Linked DNA regions of Homo sapiens. The protein of the gene in region 2 interacts with the protein of the main gene of each other region in a pairwise test. Each region holds a gene or a part of one and is shown on either strand. Other genes may lie near its edges. The genes, in order: RBFOX1, alpha-crystallin A2 chain, TUT7, TMPRSS6, LOXL4, SPATS1 and COL9A1.

Region 1 (4,274 bases), on a different chromosome or scaffold from region 2:
CTACGACTGAAACTCTGATTTTACAGGTGACAACCCGAAGCTCAGAGAGGTAAAGCAACTTGCCCAAGGTCACACAGCTGGCAGATAACGGATCCAGAAGCCCTGTGCTCTTCTGAGCCATAAAGCTCCACTCTCTGGACCCCTAAGGTGTCACTTCCACTACCGCGAGGAATGATGACTTTTCTTCCTAACCCGAGGCAACCATAAGCTAACTTAAGGAAAGCCCAGGGGATTCTTCCAAACGGAGGGCCTCCCTGACGAGCTCAAAGAGGACACAGGTTTTGAGTCAGCCCCACTTTTTACCAGCACAGCCACTGCCAGCACCACCTTTACCCTTCACAGGCCCCAGGTCCTTTGCTTCTGAACATAAAAGATCTTAGCTAAAAATAAATCTGCCAGTAGCTCCAGCCGGGGCCTCTGTGGTCACTTAAAAATTGAAAGAATCCAGGCCCTCTCATCTTTTTTTTCTCTCTTTTGTAACAAAGATAAAATGATAAATGGAGGGGAGATGAACTAGGACAGGGGGCAGGGAAGGGATGGCAGGCTGGGGCATGTCCTAAACTTGGGCTGTCAAGGCCAGGCCTCTCTGCACAACGGAGTTTAAAAATAAAAATAAACAATCATTATTCTAATAAAGGAAAACCCAAGTTAGGAGACATGATGTTTCAACTCAACAAAGCTATTTCACCACACTCCCCCACTTCTTTTCAAGTTCAACTGAAAAGATCCGCCTTTGGGGTGCCAATTGCCCGGACTGCCTGACCAGGATTTCCAAGCTCTTCAGTAGCCGCACCCCAGATGTTCCAGTGCCAGCAGGTGCACCCCAGCTCTGGCCCACACAGGAGCGATGAGCTCTCCCAGCCCCCTGACCATTCCCTGGCAGCAAGGAATGGAGCTGGGGGCTCCAGGACAAGGTTAGATCGGGGTCTTCCCCTCCCTTGCTGAGTGGACAGCTTCCGGGCTCCGCGTGACACCTGGTCCCCGCAGCTGGCGCCAGGGAGGCTCCAGGAGCTCACAGCCAAGTGGCCTCCTGGGCGGTGGGGAGATGGGAGCGGCGCCCCACTAGCCCCGCCCTCGCTTCCATAGCTGGACAATTGGTTGATTGGAGCTGACAAGCCCCCCCCTGGCCTGCACAACAACACAGGGCTAAGATCTGCTACCCCTGTGTTTCCTTCTCTGGGGTGAAGGTTCTCTAAGGCTCCCAGGAACCAGGGGCACAGTAGGAGTTTCCCATTCGCAGGTTTCCCGGCTGGCCCCCTCCCCTGGGGTCGAGGTGGCACCGCGGGGCATCGATTCCAGTGCCAGTAAACACAGCGGCGCTTTCTCCACATAAGTGAGCCTTCTCTTCCCCTCCTCCCACAAGGGGTTCGGGGCACCTAAACACCCTCCCGGGTCACTAAGATGCCTCCTCCTGCACACCCTGCGGGCGGAGGCAGCGGTCCGGGGGCGCGCTGAGTGCACGCTTGCAGCCGGCCAGGGAGACTAATCAAAGTGCGCAGGCAGGCTCCCGCTGCTCCTGGCACCTAGGACTCGCTCCCAGGAGGACGGACGAGGTAGCCTGGATGCTTCGGAGGGGCGCTCTGGGGCAAGGAAGGACGTGCTTCTGGAAGCGACGCACAAGGGGGCTCAGGGTCTCGGCCTCCTGGGGGTAGGGGGGGACACGCCTCGAGATCTTTCCACACACCCTGAAAAAGTTCCCGTCCAGAGCGCCCAGACTGGCGCTAGGAGGAGGCCAGTTCTCGGGGACCTAGCGCTTCCCTCCATGAGACCTTCTGGACCTGACCCACCAGGTCAGGGTGGGTGCAGAGGCAATGACTCCGCCTGGACTTACCTAGAACTCCCGGCGAGCCCGGCTGCGGTCACGTTCTCGGCCCCAGACCCCCGAATTCCCGTGCGCTCTCTGCACCCCCAGCCACACTCACCATAAGCTGGAGGCGGCGGAAGGGGGTGCTGGTTTCTCACGCACTGTCCGCAACTTCGCGGGCAGGTCAGCCCCGCCCTGGCGCGCCTGCCTGGGCGCGGCGAGGGTCCGGACAGGCGGGGACCCTGGCGGCCACTGGGTGGGGGTCTGGAGCGCAAGGACTCTCAATCCCGGGCGCGCGGTCCGCTCCTGCTCTCTCTGCCTGGGCAAGAAGCTCGGAGTTCTCCTGCTCCGGACGCCGGGGCGGGGCCCACGGCTGGCTGTCCCCTCCAGATGTGGGGTGCTCGGCTCGGCTCACTCCTTCCTTCTTCAGCCCCGGAGGCGCGCGCGTGGGTCCAGCCAGTGCCGCCGCCTCTGCTGTTCCCGGGGCTGGCAGAGCGCCCCCGCCCCACCGCGGGTGCTGCTGGGGGGCTGGGGCGGAGGGGGAGGGATTCCCCTCCGCGAGTTCGGGTTTCCCCACCCGACGCGGCCCCTGGGCTCCGTCCGCCGTCCGCCACCCTCCGCGCTGCTTGGAGAACCACTTCAGGGCAGCGCAGCCAGTCCCACCGACTCTGGCTGGAGGAGGCGGCGGCAGCGCGGCTCGCACGGGGACTGGAAAGGAGGTGACCTTCAAACCCCGCGCTCGGGAGACCAGGAAGGGGGCTGGGGTGATCGAGGGAGCGGTGTGTGCACCCAGACGGCCAGCAAGAGCGCTTGTAGGAGGGCGGGAGAGAATAAAGAGGAAATCTTCCAGTAAAAATATAGATTAGAAAATAAACAAAGGAGAGCCGGAGAGAGCGCGAGAAAATGTGTGCATGTGTGTGTGTGCGTGTGTGTCTGTGTGTGTGTGAGCGCGCGACAAGCAGCGAGCAGCCCCGGCTGCGGAGCCAAAAATAATCTGGTGCGCGAGGGAGCGCCCCCTCCCCCTTCCCCTCGCCAGCGCCGCCGCCGCCGCGGTCACGCGTGCAGCCCTGGATTCCAGCGGGCGGCGGCGGCGGACACGCGACCCGGTACCCTGGTCTCCTGGCCTAAAGGGGACAGAGGGTGAAAGTTGGATGCTGGGGCAATGAGCCCAGGACTTTCACCTGCGCCCGTCCTCGTCCTGGTAGTCCCCAGGTGGGCTCACTCATTGAGCACCAGCGCCCTCCTCCCAACCCCAATCAAAGTAGACAAATCCCCCACTAGAGACGCCAAGTGGAGGCAGCTTCTTGCCCCAGTCCATTTCTTCTCTGAGGAAGTTTTCTGGCAAGTCTTCAAATCTTCCGGCCAGGCAGAGATCGAGCCCTATCCAAGATTCAAAAAGTTCTCCAGGCTGGATGGGATGCAGGGCTGGGGTGGGTGCGGCTGGCCTGGGACGCCCCCACCCCGCACAGCTGGGCCTCTCCTGTCCTGCCCCCTTCCTGGCCACCTACTCCCGCAATGGACGCTGAAGGGGTCTAGGGATTGTCCTCCTAGCAGATGTCTTACAGCCAGAAGCCCCATGACGCCTTAATACACACTAGCACTTAATAAGCATTTACTTTCCACCAGATGCTGTTTTAAGCACTTTACATGGAGTCTTTTCAACAACTGGAAGTAGATACTGGAGGTTTATCCATTTCACAGATGCTTAGAGAGATTAAAGCAATATTTCTCCCTTCCTGGGTCCCACTCTGGACTGGAGTGAGAAACTCTGCTCTTCCCCTACCTTTTCCTTTCCCTCCCTCCCTTCCTTCCTCCCTCCCTTTCTTCCTTCCTCCTTTCCTCCCTTCCTTCCTTTCTCCCTTCCTCTTTTTTCCACAAATATTCCAGGGGGTTTTGTTGTACAATAAAGTCAGTCTGAGGTTCAGTGAGTTGTAATTTGTTCAAGGTCACATAGCTGGCAAGGAACCAGGACTCCCCAGGCAGTCTACCTCATTTTATGTGGCACCACCCTGCCTTCTGAAGGGCAGGTGGCATTGGACAAGGCCAGATTCCAGCCTTGAGCACTTGATCTGAGGCGCCTGTTCATTTTCCCATCCTGTGATGTGACTGTGTTTGCACTTATACCATGGATCCTCTTATAAGAAATGCTGTAAGCTTTCCAAAACAGGGGGCCATGTGATGTGCATTCCTTTGTACTAGATGTACGTGTATTTCCTAGCGCCCATCAAGGAGCAGATTCCTTAAGGGTTCCTCTTGCAATCCTATCGGGCTGCGGTTTCTTTCAACCTCAGAATAAAAGAAAGGGAACTTCTGCCTATAACTATATTACTTTTTAAAGCACGCAATATTTAATCATCATTTGAAAAAGTAAGTTTGCAAAATCCAGAAAGATATCTTTATCATTGGTCCCAGCGATTTTGCAATTTGGGTTGATTTTTACCATATGTTTCCTTAGGATTCTCTTTGATAA
Region 2 (3,500 bases):
ATAATCCTCGCTCTACAATCATAACCTAGGAAAAACCAGGCCATACAGACACAGGAGCTGAGGGGACATAGTGAGAAGTGACCAGAAGACAAGCATGCGAGCCTTCTGTTATGCCCGGACAGGGCCACCAGAGGGCTCCTTGGTCTAGCGGTAACGCCAGCGTCTGGGAAGACGCCTGTTGTCAAGCGGACCATGGTCTAGCAGTAGCGTCAGTGTCAAGGAAAAACACCGGCTACTTAGCAGACCGGGAAAGGGAGTCTCCCTTTCCCCACGGGAGTTCAGAGAAGACTCTACTCCTCCATCTCTTGTGGAGGGCCTCAGGCCCACCTTCAGTTATCCGAAGGCATACCATCTCCCTGTGACGCTGTGCTTCAGTGGTCACACTCCTAGTCCGCCTTCGTGTTCCATCCTGTACACCTGGCTCTGCCTTCTAGATAGCAGTAGCAAATTAGTGAAAGTACTAAAAGTCTCTGATATGCAGAAATAATGGCGCAAGCTGTCTCTCTCTCTCCCCCTCTCTGCCTTGGCTGCCAGGCAGGGAAGGGCCCCCTGTCCAGTGGACACGTGACCCACGTGACCCTACCTATCATTGGAGATGACTCACACTCTTTACCCTGCCCCTTTTGCTTTGTATCCAATAAATAACAACGCAGCCAGACATTCGGGGCCATTACCGGTCTCCGCATCTTGGTGTTAGTGGTCCCCCAGGCCCACCTGTCTTTCCTTTTATCTCTTTGTCTTGTGTCTTTATTTCTACAATCTCTCGTCTCTGCACATGGGGAGAAAAACCCACCGATCCTGTGGGGCTGGTCCCTACACCTAGTGAAGACGAGGTTGCCAGGAAAAGTATTTCCACCGAAGGCAAGGTCTGTGATGTAAACTGTAAGACAGTGTCTTCAGCCAATGTCTTCCCCATCTTCAGTTTCTAGCAGTTTGGGTGCAGGGAGGGAGACACCCTTACAAATGGAGATTTCCTTCATATATATAAATTTTTTTTACAAAGAGTTTCAAAATAGCCAGCTAAATGCTAGAAAGCCATATTTTGGATATCAAAGTTACACAAGGGTCTGCATTAGTTAGGGTTCTCCAGAGGGGCAGAACTAACAGAATAGACATATATATGAAAGGGAGTATATTAGGGAGAACTAGTTCACACCATCACAGGGTGAAGTCCCATGATACACCGTCTGCAAGCTGCAGAAGAAGGAAGCCAGGAGTGGCTCAGTCGGAGTCCAAAAGCCTCAAAAGTAGGGAAGCCAACAGTGCAGGCTTCAATCTGTGGCTGAAGGCCCGAGAGTCCCAAGCAAACCACTGGCTTAAGTCCAAGAGTCCAAAGGCCAAAGAACCTGGAGTCTGATGTCCAAGGGCAGGGGGAACGGAGGAGGCATCCAGCACAGGAGAAAGATGAAAGTGAAACTGCCTCTGCAAAAATTACAACTGAGGAAATGATGACAGTGAAAGAGATCAGACCTACCTGACTCCATCTTGCTTCTAACCTTTAGGCTGTCTTTGTTCATGCCTGGGCACAGGCCAACTAACCTTGGGAAGGAATTTAGCTTATAGTTTGACTCTGAAACAAAATTGATAATAGCCATTTCCCAGAAAGATCCCCTTCTTGCCTAGGAACCAGTCTGCCTTTGTAGGAGTAACAAATTAGCTACAAGATTAGAAATTTTAAGGCCCAAGGTGGCTGCCTTCACGTTAGTACCCGTGTGAAGTCGACAGGGACGGTTCCTGTTGTCTTCTTGAAGGCCACATCTGGTCCTCATTCTTGGGCTTATTTGGTGTGCTGTTGAAGGGGCAGACTAGAGAAATGGCAGGGAGCCTCTTATGTAGGGCAGGTAGGCGCCTGTGGGACTAGGTGTGGCATGCAGAAGCTTCTTTCTTGGTATTCCTAGATTGATTGGTATAAGGCTCCTACCCCCCAAAGTAGTTGATCCTTGGAACGAAAGGATGGCCATGTTCAGAGTGTATGACAACATCAGGATCCTGGGAAACTTTGAAAAGCACCCCAAAAGCTGATCAGGGACCCCATATGGCTTCGAGATTGGAAGGGGAATGAATTGCAACGCTGTATGCTAAAGAAGAAAATGGTTGGAAACAGAATGTTTGCTGATGAGCTGCACAACCTCAATAAACGCATCAGCTGTCTCTACAAACACTTTAACTGACATGGGAAATATCGATAGAAGAGAAAGCTGAGAACTTCAGAAAAGGCTCATCTGTCACCCTGGAGAAGGGAAGCTGTACTTTTCCTTATGAGGAAACGGCTTTGTATGCTCTCTGTAATAAAATGGGGCTTCTTTGAAAAAAAAAAAAAGAAATTTTGATTTAAAGGTCATCCAGCCTCTGGCTGTCCAAACCTCCCGAAATTGCTCCTGGGGATAACATCACCATTGTAATCCGAAGATCAGTGCTTGAGGTATTTATTCTGCAAGACCCTGTACTCTATGGATCAGCTGATACCACACAGACCGGCTATCTGGCTCAGCCAGTTCTGCCATTGTACCCAGGAACAGAAGACAGCAAGGAAACCTCACTTTGACCTCCCTGTGATTCCATCTCCAGCCAGATCAATCAGCACTCCTACTTCCTGAGCCGCCAAATTATCTTTAAAAACTCTGATCTGCAAATTCTTGGGATGTCTAATTTGAGTAATAATAAAACTCCAGTCGCCCGCACAGCTAGCTCTGTGTAAATTACTCGTTCTGCATTGCAATTCCCCTGTCCTGATAAATCCGCTCCATCTAGGCAGCCGGCTAGGTGAACTCACTGGGTGGCTACAAAAGCCAGAAGACTCAGCAAGCCAGCTTCTCCCACCCTCCTCCACCTGCTTTGTTCCAGCCACACTGTCAGCCAATCGGATGGTGCCCACCCACACTGAGGGTGGGTCTTCCTCTCTCAGTCCACTGACTCCAATGTCAATTTCCTCTGGCAACACCCTCACAACACACCCAAGAACAATACTTTACCATCCTTCAATCCAATCAGGTTGACAGCTAATATTAACCATCACAGGGTCTTTTCAACTTAGCTTGTTTCTCTATTAGATTACTGACTTCAGGGTGAAGCCCTTTAATGAATAGGGCAAAGGAGGCATTCTCTATGCCTGGAATCAGCATGGATAGCTCTGAAAAGAAGCAAGCCTACTTTACCTGCTTGAGGGCCTACTTTTAACTTTTTATAAACACTTTATCCAACTTATTACATATAAAAAAAGAAAAAACTTGGCCGGGTGCGGTGGCTCATGTCTGTAATCCCAGCACTTTGGGAGGCCAAGGTGGGTGGATCACCTGAGATCAGGAGTTCAAGACCAGCCTGGCCAACATGGTGAAACTTTGTCTCTACTAAAAATACAAAATTAGCCAGGTGTGGTGGTGCATGCATGTAATCCCAGCTACTTGGGAGGCTGAGGCAGGAGGACCGCTTGAACCTGGCAGGCCGAAGTTGCAGTGAGCCGAGATCAGGCCATCCCTTACACTCCAGCCTGGGCAATGAGA
Region 3 (3,500 bases), on a different chromosome or scaffold from region 2:
CAATAGCTTTTCCTATAATTCACACTGAAAAAAGTAATTTCCTCTAAGGTGCACAAATTTGTTTTCAATCATACTTTATTATATTAAGCTTCAAAATCAGTGGTCTATTTTTCTCAATCACAAAGGTTCTGTCAAGTAATACAAAGTCATCTGGTGGCTTTACAAGGCAGAACTGATTAAAAATGGAAGTTGTCTAAGTCCCAAACACTACAGTTTGAGGACACAAATAAACCCCCCAGAAATTTTAAGCATTATTACATTTTACCTCTTTATCCATAGCGGCATTACAAAGGATTTTTAAGCATCTCACTGAAATGACTTGATAATACCATAACATGAAACTGGAGAGACCTTTGAAATATCTAGACTACAGGAACTTAAACTGGTTTTCTTTAAAGCAGAGAACATTTTCTTTTTCAAATAAAATAAGAATAGCAGCTAACATTTACTGAGTGCTCACCACATGCTCGGCACTGAGTTAAGCATTCTGTAAGTGACCCTATGAGAGGGTACCAATATTATCCCCATGAGTAGGGAGGAAACTGGTGCACAGAAAGGCGAAGTCACTTGCCCAAGGACACACAGCTGGGAAGTGGGAGAGCTGGGATACAAATTCACATATTCTGGCTCCACAGCCTATACTCTTCTCCACTACAGAGACTCCAAATAAGAAACAGATAAAAGTGGTTCTGGTGGCAGCAGAGGTAGGGTGGTACCACCACTCTCCTCCTCCTCCCAGTGTTCAAGGATTCTAGAAAACACAACTGGAAAATCTGATTCACCACTAACTCCTCATTTTAGGCATGAGTAAAACATGAACTGGAGGAGTGACATGACTTGTTTGTATAAAGCTGGGATTCGATTCCAAGAATTTTGTGGATGTTACTGTCAATTTACCCCAAAAGGTAACGGGAAGATCAGGGGCCTTTCACCTATTTGGGAGAGAATCTTATTCTTATTACTAGGATAATGACATTGCAGAGATTTTTGTTTGAAATTCTAATGGCTATTCTTTCCTTGTGCATAAATTCCCCTGCCCACCCCCAACAGTATGGGACCGGTACATTAAATCATATATGCATTCACTGTTATTTTAGTAACTGAAAGCTAGTTAACCTTTCATACATTTAAACCTCATAATACCACCTAAGACTAAGCTCTTTGAGGATAGATATGGATTTACCTTTGAATTCTGAGTCTCTTTCAAAGGAACCAGCACAAAGAAACTACATAAATAACTGTGGATTTAGTGATCTAATATTTTTTTTAACCTTTTCTCATTACTTGTCTGTTCGAGGTACTAAACAGACTGGCAAATGAAAGAGCCACGAAATAGTAAAGATAGTTAAGGAAAGAAGACAAGACTGACTAATCCACAACTTCACAATTGGCAAGTGAAACTGACAACTAGAAACAAAAGAGAACAGACCTGTCCCCTTTTAATCGGCGTTTCTCTTGGTGCCTCTTCTTTTGTTATGCCTGTGTCCCCTGCAGCACTGTCAGTATGTTCCCAGATCACAACATCTTTTTCAATGTCTTGAAGGTTGAAATTCCCTAGTTTGCTTAATGAGAATCCTTCAATCTAGGAAAAATTAGACACATGCTAAAATAAGATAGAAATAATCTTATATCAAACACAGTCTACTAATCTTGGAATAAAAAAATACTCATAGTTCAACGAAAATACAAAAGATATAATTTATGGACTATCACAGAGACATCTATACATTTAAAAATATTTTTAAAAGTAAAAAACAAGGTTTTGATTTGCAAAAGAAATGGTGACTTTGTGAAATAATTCCTCAGTAAATATTCTAAGAGTAGGCAAAATGGCCTAGTGGCTGACGTCATGGGTTCTGAAGTAAAACTGCCTGGTCCCAAATCTCAGCTCCTTCATATACTAGCTGTATAACCTTGAGTAAGGTACTTACTCTCTGTAGGCCTCAGGTTCCTTTAAAAAGGGGTAACACTAGGACTTCCTTCATGGGATGGTTATGATATAAAAAAAATGACCATAAGGCACTCAGATAGAGGTAGTATCTGCTTGTAGCATACAGCACATAGTAACTGCTTAATAAATACAAGACAACTATATTGCTAGAAAATGAAAATTACAAGAACTAGATCCAGCTAATTAGAAAATAATTTTAAATACTATTAATTCTGGGTATGCTGGACATTTTCAAAGTAAATTTTATGTGCTATTAATGAATATTAATGCAAAAGAAAATGGTCTAGTTGAAAAGGCTTGTGAAATGTCAAACGGAGCTGAACAGGTTTCTTCATCGTATGATAGGATTTATCACAGCCTTTAAAACAGGTTAATGAACAGGCCACGCATGGTGGCTCATGCCTGTAATCCCAGCACTTTGGGAGGCTGAGGTGGGCGGATCACCTAAGGTCAGGAGTTCGAGACCAGCCTGACCAACATGGAGAAATCCCGTCTCTACTAAAAATACAAAATTAGCCAGGCATGGTGGCGCATGCCTGTAATTCCAGCTACTCAGGAGGCTGAGGCAGAAGAATTGTTTGACCCTGGGAGGCAGAGGTTGCAGTGAGCCGAGATGGTGCCATTGCACTCCAGCCTGGGCAACAAGAGCGAAACTCCATCTCAAAAAAAAAAAAACAAAACAAAAAACAAACAAAAACAGGTTAATGAACAAAATAATATGGGATGGAGTATGGATGTGACATCACATTTCCCAAATGTATTTTTATACCAAATGGGCTACTTCATTGGTTTAGAAGAGAGTGATCCTTCTAAAACAGAAGACACACTCTCCTGTTCATAGTGGTTTCTGTCTCACTCTAGATGAAGTGCAGTCCTTTCCAGGGCCTGAGTAACCTGGCTCTTTTCTACTTCTCTGATCCTTCTATCTTCTTGGCTCAGAGATGACACCTGGTATTCCCTCTGCTTAAAATGCTCTTCCCCCTAACAAAGTGAGGGAGACTATGACTCATTCTCCCTCACTTTATTCAGCTCTGCTCAAATGTTTTCTCTAAGGAGCTCCACATTTATCATTCTCTGTCCTCCTTACCCTGGTTTATTTTTCCTCAGAGAAAGTACCACCACTGCATATATATTTATTAGTCTCTTGCCCCAATTGGATGTATAAATTCGAGGGCAAGAATTGTGTTTTGTTCACTTCTTTTTTTTTCTTTTCTGAGGCAGAGTCTCACCCTGTTGCCCAGGCTGGAGTGCAGTGGCATGATCTCGGCTCACTGCAACCTCTACCTCCTGGGTTGAAGCGATTCTCCTGCCCCAGCCTCCCAAGTAGCTGGGATTACAGGCGCCTGCCACCATGCCCAGCTAATTTTTTTATATTTTTTTAGTAGAGATGGAGTTTCACCACGTTGGCCAGGCTGCTTCAACTCCTGACCTCAGGTGATCCACCCACCTTGGCCTCCCAAAGTGCTGTGATTACAGGCGTGAGCCACCATGCCCGGCCCTGTTCACCACTTCTAACAGTAACACCCAGAATTAGTTGGTGCCTGGCCAT
Region 4 (4,288 bases), on a different chromosome or scaffold from region 2:
AGCTGCCCCCTCCCCTGGGCAGCCCTTGATCAGATCAAGAATATGCCTTGGCTTTGGGTCTTGCCTCTGTCCCCTACAGAACAGGCAGGGCCAGCATCTTGCTCACCTCTGGGGTTCCCCATGGAACGCCGCACAGCCCGTCACATGAGTGAAGGATCAGAAAGAATGAGTGAATGAAACTGCCAAGTCTCTAGGCCCCTGGTACAGGGCTTTCTATCTTGCTGCCTCCAGGAAGGAGGACTTGTGAGGCCTGGCACTGGGGCATGGACAATGGTGTGGGCCTGTGGGGTCCCAGGTTCAATGCTCAGTCACCCTATCTTTGTCTAGCACCTGCTTGGTGCCAGGCTCTGTGGTGGCGACAGGGTGGCACATGGTGACTCTAAGAGACCTCATTCCCATCCTCTTGGGTTTCCTGCCCAGCAGGAGGAGGGGCAGTGGACAGTTGTGAAGATGACGGTGCCACTCTTGTCTTTACTATCTTATAATACAACGGCTCCCCCATTCCCAGGGTCCAGCACCTTTGGAAAAGCCTGTGGCCCTACCTTCCAAATGCCCCCCAAAGCCAGCCCCTTCTTGGCCCCCCATGACTCCCACCATCATCCAGGCCACCGTCATCTGTCACCTCGACTCCTGCAATAGCCAATCACCCACCCCCCTACCCAGTGAGTTCTCACACAATGGCCACTGCGTGTTGTCACCATGTGCCCTGCCCACAAGCCTCGCACGGCTTCCATCCACCTAGAACACAGTCCCTAAAGACCCAGGGTCTCAGTTTTCCTGTCCTCTTTGCTGAATGGGAGGTTTGCTCCTTGCTGGGCCTGGGATGTTTTCCTTTCTGCTGGCCTCGTGGCTCCCTCCTTTACCTCCTCCAAAGGGTCAGATGTCACCTCTCCAGAGAGGCCTTCCCTGGGCACTCCCGTCTCTCCTGCATTTTTCTTTATAGCAATTACAGAGGCCTAAATTGCCTGATATGCAAATATGTCATTTATCTGCCTCCTCCCTGTCTGTAAGCTGCATGAGAGCAGAGTCTGGTACTCAGCGGACACTCAGTAATTGTTAAATGAATGAATGACAAGGTCCCAGCTCCTTCCTCCCTACAGAAGTCCAAGGTGCTGTGTGCATATGTGGCCTGGCCAACTTCTCCTGCCTCCTTTTTTCCCACCCTCTCTTTTCCCCGTCGCACCCCAAGGACACTGGACTTCCATTGGTGAGAAATTTTAACAATGGGATGGTAGCAAACATTTATGGATTAAGAGCAGCCAGCCGGCACCAAGAGCCCTCGTGGACCTTGAGCCCTGTCAGTGCTTGTTCACGGCCAGGCGTCCCCACACTCTTCCTTCTGCCTGGGCCCCCACCTCCCAACCTGGCCAGCTCTTATGCAGCCCCTGTCACCTCAGTTCAGACCTCACCTCTTCGCAGCTCTCCCAGAGTGCCCTAGAAGGGGCGGCTGCCCCTCGCGATGTGCAGCTTACCTGTGGGCACTCTCTCTTTGCCCCTCACATTGAACTCCTGGAAGCGGGGACTGTGCTCCAATTGCCACAGGGGCCTGAAGCAGTCCCCCAGCTCTGAGCACCATGGACCCCACCCTGGCACCTGCTCCTCACTCCCTCCTGCCCTTCTGGCCATTGGAGGGTCTCGGGTCTGCCTGCTGGAGGCTGAGCTCCTTGGGGCGGGGCCGCGACTCCCCCAGCAATGCAGATCCGGATTCAACCACTGCGTATGAACTCCTACCATGTGCCAGCCCTGTGCTGGGCAGTGCTGCAAACTCCACTGCAGCCTCCAACAGCCTGGGGTGCCTACTTTGCTGACTCTATTTAATGGCTGGGGAAACTGAGGTAGAGAGAGGTAACATGACTTACCCGAGGTCCCTCAGCCAGGGCAGAGCAGAGCAGAGCAGGGACTCTGGGCTAGGGCCATAGGGGCATCTTTCAGTGAAACCATTAGGCCCTAGAGTCCTGAGAGTGTGGGGGACTGGGTGGGGGTCCCTTCCACACATATAAACACACTCACAGACCCACAGATGTACACAGATGGAGACACGCGGAGGGATATACGCACATCTATTCATGACACAAAAATTCATAGATGCACGCCCTTCCTACACAGACACACACACGAACACACATACACATACATGCCAACTCTGAGCCTGTGAGCCCAGGGTCCTGGGCTTAAGTCAGTACATAGGTGCAATGTGGGGCTCCGGGCCTGTCTCCTACACCAGAAGGCCCAGGTGGGGTACCGGGTGTGGAGGGGGCAGCATGTCCAGTCCTGCGAGGCAGGGGTAGGGTGGCCTCTCCCTTCCTCCTGTCCCTGCCACCTGAATCCCAGGCCACCAACCACCCAGCACTGATGCTGTGCCTGTCCACACACCTGGTGTCACCCTGCGTGGTCCCTCCCCTCCCCAGCTCTGTGGGCCCCTCACCTTCTGCTCACTGATCACCCTCTGGCCGATGAGGCCCTGCAGGCCTGGCCTCGGAGCAGGGTAGGTGGCTCAGGCTGCAGGGAGCCAGGCCCAGCTCTTAGGGTGGACACTGTCACTAGGTCATTTATAGATCCCGGTCCCCTGTCCTGGAGGCCCCCGCTTACCTTTGGGAGCGGCAGATAGGTGCCGGGCCTGCACACAGGCCTCAGGAGCCTCTGTTTGTCCAGGCCAAGGCCTCCCCACCCCCACCCAGCCAGCCCAGGCTGGATCAATGGCCTAGAGCCATGACCAGGGTGTCTGGCCCTTGTCCCCTGTGGCCTGTGGCCTCAGGCTCCATGGAACTCCTCCTGCTGGGTCCTGGACAGCACTGTGACTAAGTACAGGTAAACAGGCAGGAGGTAGGAGAAGGCAGTGCCTGCCCCGCCCCATCTTCCCCCACCCCCGCATGGGCACCCCAGAGGCTGGCAGGCAGGTGCGGGAGATCTGAGCTCTCCCCCGAGGCCCGTTGCCTGGTGACATGCCTGCCTGGTTACAGCCCCTGGTCCCCGAGAGCATGAGGTAGGGACAGCCAAGGACTGGGGACTGTGCAGAGGCCGGTGCAGGTGAGTGCAGGGGCTCACAAGGGTGAGTCCAGGTGCTTACCTGGACAGGCGAGACTAAAGGAGCTGCTGGCCTGAGAGAGAGAAAAGGAGGCTGGGCCCATATACTCTGGGGACTGGAGAGGAGAAAGGGGAGGCAGGGGTGGGGTTTGATGCTATTTTCTGTTTAGCTGGGAATTATTTGAATTCCTACCTCGTTCTTTTTTTTTTTTTTTTTTTTTTTTAAGATGGAGTCTCACTCCGTCACCCAGGCTAGAGTGCAGTGGTGTGATTTCGGCTCACTGCAACCTCCGCCTCCCGGGTTCAAGCAATTCTCCTGCCTCAGCCTCCCAGGTAGCTGGGATTACAGCGCCCACCACCATGCCCGGCTAATTTTCATAATTTTAGAAGAGATGGGGTTTCACCATGTTAGCCAGGCTGGTCTCGAACTCCTGACCTCAAGTGATTCCACCCACCTCGACCTCCCAAAACGCTAGGATTACAGGCATGAGCGACCGCACGCAGCATGAATTCCTACCTGGTTCCGTAGCGCTGTGCTGTCCATGACGGTAGCCGCTGGTCACCCGTGGCTCTTGAGTCAGTCTGAACTGAGAAAAGCTGCACGGGGGAGACGCACACCAGGTTTCCAAGGCCAAGTGCAAACAGGATGTCAACCAACGCGATAACAATTTTTATATTGATTTTATGTTGAAATAACACTGGTGATCATGGGATAAATAAAATGTATTATTAAAAGCAATTTTCTTCTGGCTCTCTTGTTTTTTTTTTTTTCAGAGACAGGGTCTCATTAGGTTGCCAGGCTGGTCTGGAGCTCCTGGGCCCACATGATCCTCCTGCTTCAGCCTCCCAAGTAGCTGGGATTACAGGCGCGGGCCACCACACCCCTTGTTGCATGTGGATATTAGACAGGTTAAGTCACAAGTGTGACCTGCGTTGTTGTTCTATGGAACAGCGTTGCTGTGGAGATGGGTTTGAGCCATATGCGTGCCGAAGTGCCGGATGGGAGCCAGGGCTTTCTAGGGTGCGTGCAGGGCAGCGGGCGTCTGTCTCAGACAAGGCTGACTTTCAGCGAGTCTACATCCTGAGGCCAGAATGCGGGGTGCACGCCTGAGATGCTGTGTGCTGTGGGCATATGGGTCCCAGAGTGTGTGTGTAAGAGAGACAGTCTGGAATTTGTGTGTGTAGATTATGTATGTGTAGAATGTGCGTGTGTGTGTGTGTGTGTGTGTGTGGAGCGTAGGGATTGTGTGTGGGGTATAAGATT
Region 5 (3,500 bases), on a different chromosome or scaffold from region 2:
TGAGGAGGAGGCACCAGCAGGGGCTGAGCCCCCACAGCGGGATCCCCAACGGGGCTCCTTCAAGTTCCATGGCGGTGGCCAGAGCCAAGGATGGGGAGTTCCAGTCCTGCTTCTGACTTCCCATAGCTGTCACCCTGAATAAGCTGTTTTTCTTGATCTCCATTTCTTCAATGACCAATCACCCCCACAGCCTCATCAAGGATGCCGTCTCAAGTGTGGCGCTAAGGCATCTGTACCACCTCACAAGGCCATCTCAGTGTGGCACTAAGGTGTCTGTACCACCTCACGAGGCTATCTCAGTGTGGCACTAAGGTATCTGTACCACCTCACGAGGCCATCTCAGTGTGGCACTAAGGTGTCTGTACCACCTCACGAGGCCATCTCAGTGTGGCGCTGAGGCATCTGTACCACCTCACGGCATCTGTACCACCTCATGAGGGCATCTCAGTTTGGCACTGAGGCGTCTCTACCACCTCATAAGCACTTGCTCATCTCCTCTTTAAAACAAAGGAGCAGGCTCAGGAGCAGGCTCAGGATCAGTACCAGCCCTCAGTGGAATGTAGTTAGGATTTAATTACTGTTTTTACGGTCACCTTCTATTCAAGGCGGGTGATGTCAGCTTTCCATTTATGGTAGGGCTATAAATGATCCCTTTTAAATACATTCCAAGGTTCTACAGTTCTGTGATTCACTCTCCTCCTCCCAGTCTGGTTCCTCTCTCCTGCGTGTCCTGGACCTCCCCGCACCCCCCACCAGGCAGTGTCCCGCCCGTGCCTCCAAGCTGTGGTGTGAGTGCAGGATGCCCAGGGCTCACCTCTGCCCAGGACCCTTTGCGTTGTGGCTTTGTCTTCGGTGGGCGGAAGTGAGGCCCTGCCACACAGCTGACCACAGCGTGCATGCCACCTGGGCAGGCTGGCCGCAGCTTGCCCCGGGCTGGAGCCACCTGCACCTGGCAGTTGGCCATGTGGGGCTCTGTCCCCAGGCAGGTGACCTGGTGGATCCAGAAGGAGTTCTTATTCGTCAGGCTCTTCAGCCTAGAGGACAAGGGAGACTGAGGGTGGAGGAAGGGCTGAGGGAAGAGCTTCAGGACTAAGGGAGGCCAAGGTAGAAAGGAGGGAAGGGGAGGGTAGGGGATGGGATAGAGGCCCTTCATGCCACACCCCTTTGCCTCCTCCCTCTAGGGTGCTGCTCCTCACCTAGACTTAGGGTCCCTCATCTTCAGATCCCAGACTTTCCTGTTATGGGAGAAAACAGATAGGAGGTGGAAGGGGTGTGGAAGTCCCACCCCCTGCCACCTGGTTCCTCATAGTTGTCCTTAAGTTTGCACAGGACTTTACATTTTGTAAACTTATTCACTAATCTGATTTCAATGCTGAGCTTCACAGCAGCCCTGACGGGGTGGCCACCTCACAAATAACCATTTTACAAGGAAGGCAAGCAAGGTCCCTCGGCCAGTCCTAGAGTGGGGGCAGGTGGATCAGGCTTGCCCTCTCCGAAGTCCAGAGGAAGGGGAGCATTTAGGGAGGGCCCAAGAGAAGGGGCCCTCTGGGGACAGGTGGGAGGTGAAGGCCTTGCTGGTGGGGGCGGCCCGCCCAGAGACACCCAGGCTACCATCAGGCCTGCCCTCCTCATGGGTGGCAGGCAAGTCAGCGAGACCCAGGTGTGCAATTACCAGGCAGGGGGAGTCAGGCTGCATCCCAGGATCCCCAAGGATGGAGCCAGAGGCTGACCAGCACCCCTGTTTCCTCAGAACGGGGTTCCTCTAAGTCACTGCAACAAGGGCCTTCTAACCCTTTAGGGAAGCAGGATCAAACTGATTGGGGTGGCAGATGACTCAGACGTACTACGGGAGACTTCTCACTTGATGGGAAACACACAAGTCCTCCCTGACACGGATCTGGCAGAACCATGACTGTGGCTGTCGTTTACTGGTTGATGCAATCAGTTGTGACAGTTCCGCCTTGTTTCTGACAGAATATTTTTATGTCTCCTCTCTCCAGGTGCCCCACCCCACGCCTCACTTACACACAACCCAGTCACAGCCTGGCTTGATCAGAGCTGAGGAAATTCAGGAGGGAAGCGTTGGGATATTCGCAGTGGAATTGAGGATGGAGGCTCAGAGGCCCTCCCCAAAGCCCTAACGCCAGTCACTGGCTGAGCTGAGGCCAGAACAGTTTGTCTAAACTCTACACGTGGGTGTCACTGCAAGTATCTGCAGGAAAGTCTAGTGTTTTAACCAAGGACACGCGGTTTTATGTTCAACTGTTTTCACCGGGGGCGGGGGGTGGGGGGGCGTTCTGTACCTAGTTAATTCTGTTTACATAATTCGAGAGTGCAGTGTTTGTTTTCTGACTGTTTCTAGGTATTTCCCAGGATCCTGAAGGTCCTCCTTATTCACTTTCCTGTTTATTATTCTGAGGCACCCGTGAAGCAAGAAATCTGGGCACATTCCTCAGTAGGGCCTGTTTTCTCTCCCCCAATCCCAACACCTGCTGGATGTCCTGCCACAGACAACACCACTGCCAGTCAGTACTCACTGAACTCTGCGAGGTCCCACATGCCACACACATCACACACTCGCCTGTGTGCATACTTACTTGCCCCTCACATGAGTCCACACTCAGACTCATGCACACACCCTACATCACATGCACGCACATGAACACACACTCAGTCCCTGCCCCACAACCCTGCCTCCTGTGGGGCCTACGCCAGCCGCCCTCCTACCTGTAGTAGTGGCTGTCGACAGGCACCTCGCTGGGGAAGCCCAGCATCCCGCACACCACCCTGCTGTTGTTCATGGTCCAGCCCTGGTCACACACCTGCCGCCAGTGGCCCTCATACTTCACCTCCACGGCTCCCTCGGTCACTGGGCTATGCTGCTTGGCACTGGCAAGGATGGGCTTGAGCCGCACCTCCTCCAGCCGCCGGCCCTGCGGGGTGCACAGTCACCTGTGGGCCTCGGGGCTCCTGCTCCTCCAGTGGAGCCTGCTGCAGATCTTCATGCAGAAAGGCTGGGGCTTGGAGCTTTTCGAGACCATCCCACCCAGCCCGGTCATTGAACAGGCCAGGAAACTGAGGCCCAGAGAAGGGGAGGCATTATCAAAGGCCACAGAGTAAGTGCAAGGCAGAACCTCAGCTTGTCTAAGCCCTTTCCCTCAGTTCCTCGAATTTGTCAAATTGGAGAGAACTAGGCAGATCTGGCCCCCGCTGGGATCAGGATGGGAGCCCTTGGAGTTTGGGAGGCTTTTGCTGGGCATGGAAGGGCCTTCTCTGTACCACCCTGAGAGAGCTGAGATGGGCATAGACCAGCTGCTTGAGACCACAGCAGGATCCTATGGCCCACAAGAACCCCCAACCCTAGCCCTGGGATGACTTAGACCAGTACAGAGTCCCCATCACAACACGCTGCATTCAGTGGCCATGGCCAGCTGTCCTGAGGCTGGAGGCTGCCTGGCAGCAGAGCCCTGCCCTGCCCGCTCCTGTTGTTTGGCTTGGGC
Region 6 (3,500 bases), on a different chromosome or scaffold from region 2:
TAAGACAAGGTCTTGCTCTGTGGCCCAGGCTGGAGTGCAGTGCCACCATCTTGGCTCACTGCAGTTCCGAATGCCAGCCCCCCAGCCCCAGGCTCAAGCAATCCTCTAACCTCAGCCTCTAAGTTGCTGGGACTAGAGGCATGTGCCACCATGCCCGGCTGATTTTTCTATTTTTAGTAGAGACAGGGTTTCTCCATGTTGCCCAGGCCAGTCTCAAACTCCTGGGCCCAAGCGATTAGCCGGCCTTGGCCTCTCAAAGTGCTGGTATTACAGGTGTGAGCCACTGCAGCCAGCCTACCCTGCACTCTTGAGCTGCAAGTACCTATCAAAAGTAAATGGGATTATCATAATGACCTAAATCTCAATCTTGACTTATCACTGCCCTCCTGGCTCAAAAGTAAACCACCTTATCCTGAATTTTATGTTTATGATTCTTCCCTCTCCTTTCCTTTCTTTTTCTTTCTTCTCCTTTCCTCTTCTTTTTCTTTCTTTCCTTCCTTCCTTCCCTCCTTCCCTCCTTCCTTCCTTCCCTCCTTCCCTCCTTCCTTCCTTCCCTCCTTCCTTCCTTTTTCCTTTCCTCCCTCCCTCTCTCCATCCTTTCATTTCTTCTTTCCCTTCTTCCTTTAGGGTTTTATAAATACTGAGTAAATGCAATGATATATTTATGAAACATTTGTTGACTATATAAAATGAAATATCACAAATACTTGCGTTCTTTTACTCCACTTAAGAAATAAAATTCTAACTTTATATTTGAAGGCTCCAATATCCTCTTCCCCGAATATTCCATCTTTCCTCCTCCAACTCCAGTGGTAACCCATATTTCATATTTTTTTAAAGAAAAACTTATTAGGTAAATTTTCAAACAATAGCAAAATGAAACCCGATGTACTCATCCACTTAGCTTCAATAATGATCAACACCTGGCTAACTTGTTTCATCATTACTCCTCCTCCCAGGGATTATTTCAAAGCAAATTTCAGACATCATATTATTTCATCTCTAAATATATCATATGTGCCTCTGATAGATAAGGATTATTTTATTAACATAACCACAATTCCATATCATAATATCATATTTTAAAAATTAACAGTAATTCCTTAATATAGTCAGTGTCCAAATATCCCATTGTCTCATAAATGCCACAATTTAAAAATATTTAGTTTGTTTGGATCAGGATCCAAGTAAGGCCCACAGATTGAAATTGGTTGGTATGTCTGTTAAGTTTCTTTCTCCCTCCTTTTTTCTTGCAATTTGTATGGTGAAGAAACTAGGCCTTATCCTGCAGTATTCACCATGATCAGGACTTTGCTGATTACATTGCTTGGTATCATTTAACAGGTTCCTCTTTCCTGTGTATTTCCTGTGAAGTGGTAGTTGGGTCTACAGGCTTGATTCGTTTTAGTATATGATTACTTCTTAGGTGATGTACAGTGACTTCTTTAAACATCAAACGCAATGGTCTTTTTCCATTTCTTCTCTTCCTTGATCTCACTGCAGCACTTGATACTGTCAAGCTTGACACTGGATACTTCTTCCTTTGTGAAATTCTCTCCCCACTCTTTCTTTCTTTTCTTTCTTTCTTTTTTTCTTTCTGTCTTTCTTTCTTTCTTTTTCTTTTTCTTCTTTTCTTTTCTCTTTCTTTCTTTCTTTCTTTTTTTTTTAGACAGAGTCTCGCTCTGTCACCCAGGCTGGAGTGCAGTAGCGTGACCTTGGCTCACTGCAACCTCCGCCCACTGAGTTCAAGCAATTCTCATGTCTCAGCCTCCTGGGATTACAGGCATGTGCCACCACTGCCGGCTAATTCTTGTCTTTTAGTAGAGACAGGGTTTCACCATGTTGGCCAGGCTGGTCTCCAACTCCTGACCTCAGATGATCCACCCGCCTCGGCCTCCCAAAGTGCTGGGATTACAGGTGTGAGCCACCACTCCTGGCCCCCACTCATTATTTCTTGGATGAGATGAAGTGGTAGGCTCAGGGACTGCCAACCAGCTGCCATTTTAAACTGGAATGCAACGCATTATTATATCAAAAAATCAATCAAAATATCTTTAAATAATGGTTGACTGTTATCCATCAGCCATAACCAGGATATTGGTGGAGTTCCCTAAAGGCCTAGCTGTTGCCACAGAACAAAATGCCATCTATGATTGTAGGTGGTAGGGAAATAGATCTGAAAATACAATTTTCTATTGTGTAGCTCTTCCCACAGTACAGCATATTGTATTAGTCAGAATAGGATAGATTCTGCCGCAGTAACAGTCCCTGAAATCTCTGCAGCTTAAGCACTAAAGTTTGCTCCTTTCTCTTGTAAAGTCCACTGTGGATCCAGCAGCTCTCCAGGACAGCTCCTTTCCAAGGATGCTGTCTGCTTTTATCTGTGACCTTTCCATCTCAACCTGTGGCTTCTAAGATTGCCATAGAAGGGTAAAGAGAAAATGCTGGAAGGTTTTTCACATCAGCTCCTTAAATGCTTCTTTTTAAAGTGGCACATATCATCTCTGCTCACAATCTATCAGTCAGAACATGGCTCTACCTAAACGCATCGGGGCACTGAAATGTGGGGCAGAGTAAGTTATTTGGTGAACGGTTCGCTCCCTTATATGGTTATTTGTCTCTAAATGTATGTTTCCCATTTTCTACCTCCTGAATGTCTACATCCAGGAAATTGGATGGTCTGTCTAAAAACAAACAAGCATTAGAACTGATCATGCAGTGTTATGGGTCCATCAGCTATTGATACATAGTGGCCAGCCCTTTGGGCTGATACCTGTTTTGGTGAGATATCCAGAAATTATACCAAGGCCCCATATTGTACTTAATAGCTTAAACAAACATGTTATCTCAGAAGTGTTGTTTGGGAGATTTTCCCCCTAAAAGTAACACCTTATACTGACATCACACCATTGCCTCTTTTTCTTCCTCCTGACATTATCTTGTGATATCTTTTACCATAGTCTATATATATATATATATTTTTTTTTTTTTTGAGACAGAGTTTCGCTCTTGTTGCCCAGGCTGGAGTGCAATGGTGCGATCTCGGCTCACTGCAATCTCTGCCTCCCAGGTTCAAGCGATTCTCCTGCCTCAGCCTCCTGAGTAGCTGGGATTACAGGCATGTGCCACCATGCCCAGCTAATTTTGTATTTTTAGTGGAGACGGGATTTCACCATGTTGATCAGGCTGGTCTTGAACTCCTGATGTCAGGTGATCCACCTGCCTCGGCCTCCCAAAGTGCTGGGATTACAAGCATGAGCCACTGCGCCTGGCCACCATAGTCTATTTCTAGGTGTTCTCCTTAGACCACCTATATCATAATCAACTGGAAAGTTTATAAAAATTACTGGTTCTGGGAACTATTAGAGATCTTCTGAAACAGAATTTCTTGGGTTAAAGGCTGCATTTTAAACAAGTTTCCTAGGTGATTTTCAGGTGTGCTAAAATTTTGGAACCACTGTTCTATAGTATATGGCATTTACTGCTTTGTAGTGTTACCT
Region 7 (3,500 bases), on a different chromosome or scaffold from region 2:
TTCTTTGGAGACATGCACAGAAACAATTTGAAATCATTGTATCACCCTGCTACACTCCGTGATATGGGTTTTGTGACTAGAATTTAACAGCTCCGTGCTAGTATGAGAGAAAGAGAGAGAGAAAGAGAGGTTGGCCTCAAGATTTATTTGTTGAGCTCTAAATTCCTTTGTTTCCTTCAAAAGAACACTTGTCCTCTAAGACATATTTTCTAAATTCCTATCATAATATTATAAAACATCCTTTTAAAGCATTGCTCAAAGTATAACAATTCAAAATGATAGAACTATCTTGTACTAGTTGGCACAATTATTGTGTCAACATGTAATTCCTTACCTTTATATCTGGGGATCTCTGCAGTAAAATCATGAACAGAGCTCTAAAATCCTTCACTTCTACAATACGTCGTGCAAGACCTACTTCTAAATAAATCAATATTATGCATCTATATAACTTTCATTCTTGTTGACCAGACATCATATGGCTTTCTAACCTCATCTCTCACCACTCTGAAGATAGTATGTCTCACCCTCCTCTCTCTCTCTCTTTCACACACACACACACACACACACACACACACACACACACACACATTTTCATATACATATATCATCCAAATCAGCGAGTCCCTAGGCCTTTGAATGTGATCTACTTATTAACTTTTTCCCTTAATGGTGTTTCCCTCAGCTATAATGTACTTTCTCCTCTCTTTTTGCCAATCCAAATCCTTTCATTTCAAAGTGCATTGCTTCCAAGAAGCATGGGATTCTTGACTAACTGAATCTGTCACCTACCTCAACCTTACTTTGAATATTTTTATTAGTTATGTGTACACAATATGTGCCACATCAGTATGGCTTTCTTTCTAAGTTGCCTCAGAAAGACTCTGGGTGCACTAGGTGGGCATGTAACACTTTCCAACTTTAAGCTCCTCAAGACCAGAAGCTATCTACTTAACTTCCTCTGATTCCAAATTCCATCTGGGACATGCTGCACTCAGCTGATTATCAAAGATGCTTGAGATGTTCATTTTTACCAATCTAGTTTTGCTTTAATCTGCCATAGTGTGTGGTTTTATACTTACTGGAACAGAAACTTGAGGATTATCTGCAAGTTTTCCCAGCACAGCAAAGCCATCAATGTCAATTGGGCCTCTTGGCTTTATAGGTAAAGATTCAATCCTGTTGCAGTCAACAAAAAGAGTAGCACTACTCCTCTCCACGCCAATCATGATCTTATGCCACTGGGAATCAAACAAGGAGGACAAATTCGAAAAGGCTGCTGTTTGGAGACTTCCATCCAGTCCCTTGTATGAAAATACAACAGATTGTGTTTGGCCATTAATCTTTATGCCAACTTGCTCCTTCCCAGAGGAATCCTGAATCTGCCAAATGTTCCAGTTCTTTTTGAGAGTGCTTCCAGTCATTCGAAACGTCGTCAAGAAGGAGTATTCTTCAGGCAGTCCACTGGGATATAAATTCCTGAGTAAAATTTTTAAATAGTAAACATGCATCTTGTTTCCTGTACCCATATGTATTTACCACATTCCCTTTTGAGGCCATTTTAGATGCCAGACCTATAGAAAAGCTACAGTGTAAAAACCTATGTACCGTTTGTTCTTTCATGACTGTTCATAAAGACCTTTACAGAAGTTCAATCATTCCTGTACATTCATGGTCCGTCTTAAATTACACATTTTAAAAACACCCTCCCTCATGGCTAAGGAAGGTTCCCAATGCCACATAATCCCAACAATATTACTATTTATACTACCCAAAGAGCTACTGTTCAGCAATTTCATCTCAGCCAAAAAATACATTCTTGCAAAGTTCTTGGCAATATTTCATTCACAAGTGAGAGAGGAGATCATTAGGAATGTAAATCAGCTGTACTAGCTTATGAAACAATTTAATTAAAGCAGCTAGCAGCTTCTAATTGTTTTATTTTAAAGTAGCATGTTAAGATTATTTGTTATTTCCATAATTGCTTGGGTATTCCACTCCACAATTATATCCCAGACCCATATAAGTATTTTGAGAACCAGTAACTGAGGACTTCAGGAGCTTCTTCACACTGAGGATGTTTGTCTTTTTTTAGGGAGTTCAAATTATGATGTTAAAGTAGCAGTTTGACACTGGATATGTGGCAAGGGAAAAGTGACCAATTCTTACTTCTCTACTGCAACTCTGTTGTTGCTTCTTTTTTTTTTTTTTTTTTTTTTTTTTATGGAGTCTCACTTTGTTGCCCAGGCTGGAGTGCAATGGCGCCATCTCAGCTCACTGCAACCTCCACCTCCTGGGTTCAAGTGATTCTCCTGCCTCAGCCTTCCAAGTAGGTGGGATTACAGGCGCCCACCATTATGCCTGGCTAATTTTTTGTATTTTTAGTAGAGATGGTGTTTCGCCATGTCAGTCAGGCTGGTCTCGAACTCCTGACCTCAGGTGATCCTCCTGCCTCAGTCTCCCATAGTGCTGGGATTACAGGTGTGAGCTACTGCATCCGGCCCAGTTGTTCCTTAATCTGCCAACTAAGTCTGTATCATTGCTAACTCCTTTACTGCTTTAAATGGCAGAATAAAACCAGTAGTGTCCCTGAGGCATCTCTACCCTATACAGAGACTGTGGTCTGGAGCTGCACCAGCTACCTGGATATTCTTTTGCTGAAGCCAAGCTGCTAAAAGCTGAAGACTGAACTTTAAAAATCAGCATGTTAAATGTAAGCATCATCTTTCAAGGACTTGAACATTATGTCTTTTTACATTTCTCCTTCTAAGCGTAGAAAAATTCCTAAGCAAGGAAGAAATGCTAGGCAAACTAAATGCTAATGAATTTTCTGTGCTAAACAATAAAAATTTTATATTTCTGAGAACAGTTATGGACCAGGACCCAGAATCCCAAATAACCTTCCTTCAAGTCAAATTCTTGTTATGTAGCCCTCTTTAATTTGCTAAGATCTTCTATCTTTACTTTGATTTTAATTATAAAACTTTATTATGTCTTATAACAACATAAACAAATCTTTAACTTCTTTTATACAAATATTTTTACAAGCCCTCAATAAAATAAGTCAACTATCTCAACAAATTTTATCACTTTGTTAGTTTTCTAAAGATAACAAAAAGGTTAACTTTTCATCTGAATACTCTTTCATCATAGAAGTATTTTTTTTAACCATTACTTTGTAATATGACTGGTTTGTATTTAGGGTATGGGATGAATTATTTTATCCATACATCTTTTTTTCACTGGTGACATGTATTAATCTTACTGCAAAGTTTTCAGTTCACTACCTATGTTTTATATCCCTCAAGTGTACATTTTAAAATATTCAATATGGAGCTACAGAAAAAAATTATACAAGAACCATTGACTGACCTATTTTCCCCATATGAAACTGTCTACTACATGACTCCAGATATTTGTTTTTAATATACTTCCTGTTTATCAATCAGTTTGTCATATTTTCTTTGACTTTATATTTTTCAGAATTATATCTATTCTGG

Evidence for each region.
Region 1: the proteins of alpha-crystallin A2 chain (region 2) and RBFOX1 interact in binary tests that used the Homo sapiens proteins (3 or more experiments, as listed by UniProt).
Region 3: the proteins of alpha-crystallin A2 chain (region 2) and TUT7 interact in binary tests that used the Homo sapiens proteins (3 or more experiments, as listed by UniProt).
Region 4: the proteins of alpha-crystallin A2 chain (region 2) and TMPRSS6 interact in binary tests that used the Homo sapiens proteins (3 or more experiments, as listed by UniProt).
Region 5: the proteins of alpha-crystallin A2 chain (region 2) and LOXL4 interact in binary tests that used the Homo sapiens proteins (3 or more experiments, as listed by UniProt).
Region 6: the proteins of alpha-crystallin A2 chain (region 2) and SPATS1 interact in binary tests that used the Homo sapiens proteins (3 or more experiments, as listed by UniProt).
Region 7: the proteins of alpha-crystallin A2 chain (region 2) and COL9A1 interact in binary tests that used the Homo sapiens proteins (3 or more experiments, as listed by UniProt).

Annotation. Positions count from the first base shown.
Region 1 is NC_000016.10:6,017,550-6,021,823, reverse strand, and holds the start of RBFOX1 (RNA binding protein fox-1 homolog 1), read right to left. Parts: upstream 2,801-4,274; 5' UTR 1,926-2,800; coding exon of another isoform or gene 1,923-1,925; 5' UTR 1,832-1,922; intron 1-1,831. UniProt on the Homo sapiens protein: RNA-binding protein that regulates alternative splicing events by binding to 5'-UGCAUGU-3' elements. Regulates alternative splicing of tissue-specific exons and of differentially spliced exons during erythropoiesis.
Region 2 is NC_000021.9:6,505,703-6,509,202, reverse strand, and holds part of alpha-crystallin A2 chain, read right to left. Parts: intron 2,401-3,500; exon of another isoform or gene 1,814-2,400; intron 1-1,813. UniProt on the Homo sapiens protein: Contributes to the transparency and refractive index of the lens. In its oxidized form (absence of intramolecular disulfide bond), acts as a chaperone, preventing aggregation of various proteins under a wide range of stress conditions.
Region 3 is NC_000009.12:86,326,911-86,330,410, forward strand, and holds part of TUT7 (terminal uridylyltransferase 7), read right to left. Parts: intron 1,583-3,500; coding exon 1,430-1,582; intron 1-1,429. UniProt on the Homo sapiens protein: Uridylyltransferase that mediates the terminal uridylation of mRNAs with short (less than 25 nucleotides) poly(A) tails, hence facilitating global mRNA decay. Essential for both oocyte maturation and fertility.
Region 4 is NC_000022.11:37,106,914-37,111,201, forward strand, and holds the start of TMPRSS6 (transmembrane protease serine 6), read right to left. Parts: upstream 2,801-4,288; 5' UTR 2,590-2,800; intron 2,525-2,589; exon of another isoform or gene 2,426-2,524; intron 1-2,425. UniProt on the Homo sapiens protein: Membrane-bound serine protease. Through the cleavage of cell surface hemojuvelin (HJV), a regulator of the expression of the iron absorption-regulating hormone hepicidin/HAMP, plays a role in iron homeostasis.
Region 5 is NC_000010.11:98,258,195-98,261,694, forward strand, and holds part of LOXL4 (lysyl oxidase homolog 4 precursor), read right to left. Parts: intron 2,934-3,500; coding exon 2,728-2,933; intron 1,236-2,727; coding exon 1,197-1,235; intron 1,035-1,196; coding exon 815-1,034; intron 1-814. UniProt on the Homo sapiens protein: Catalyzes the oxidative deamination of lysine and hydroxylysine residues in collagen and elastin, resulting in the formation of covalent cross-linkages, and the stabilization of collagen and elastin fibers.
Region 6 is NC_000006.12:44,363,150-44,366,649, forward strand, and holds part of SPATS1 (spermatogenesis-associated serine-rich protein 1), read left to right. Parts: intron 1-3,500.
Region 7 is NC_000006.12:70,293,085-70,296,584, forward strand, and holds part of COL9A1 (collagen alpha-1(IX) chain isoform 1 precursor), read right to left. Parts: intron 1,480-3,500; coding exon 1,083-1,479; intron 1-1,082. UniProt on the Homo sapiens protein: Structural component of hyaline cartilage and vitreous of the eye.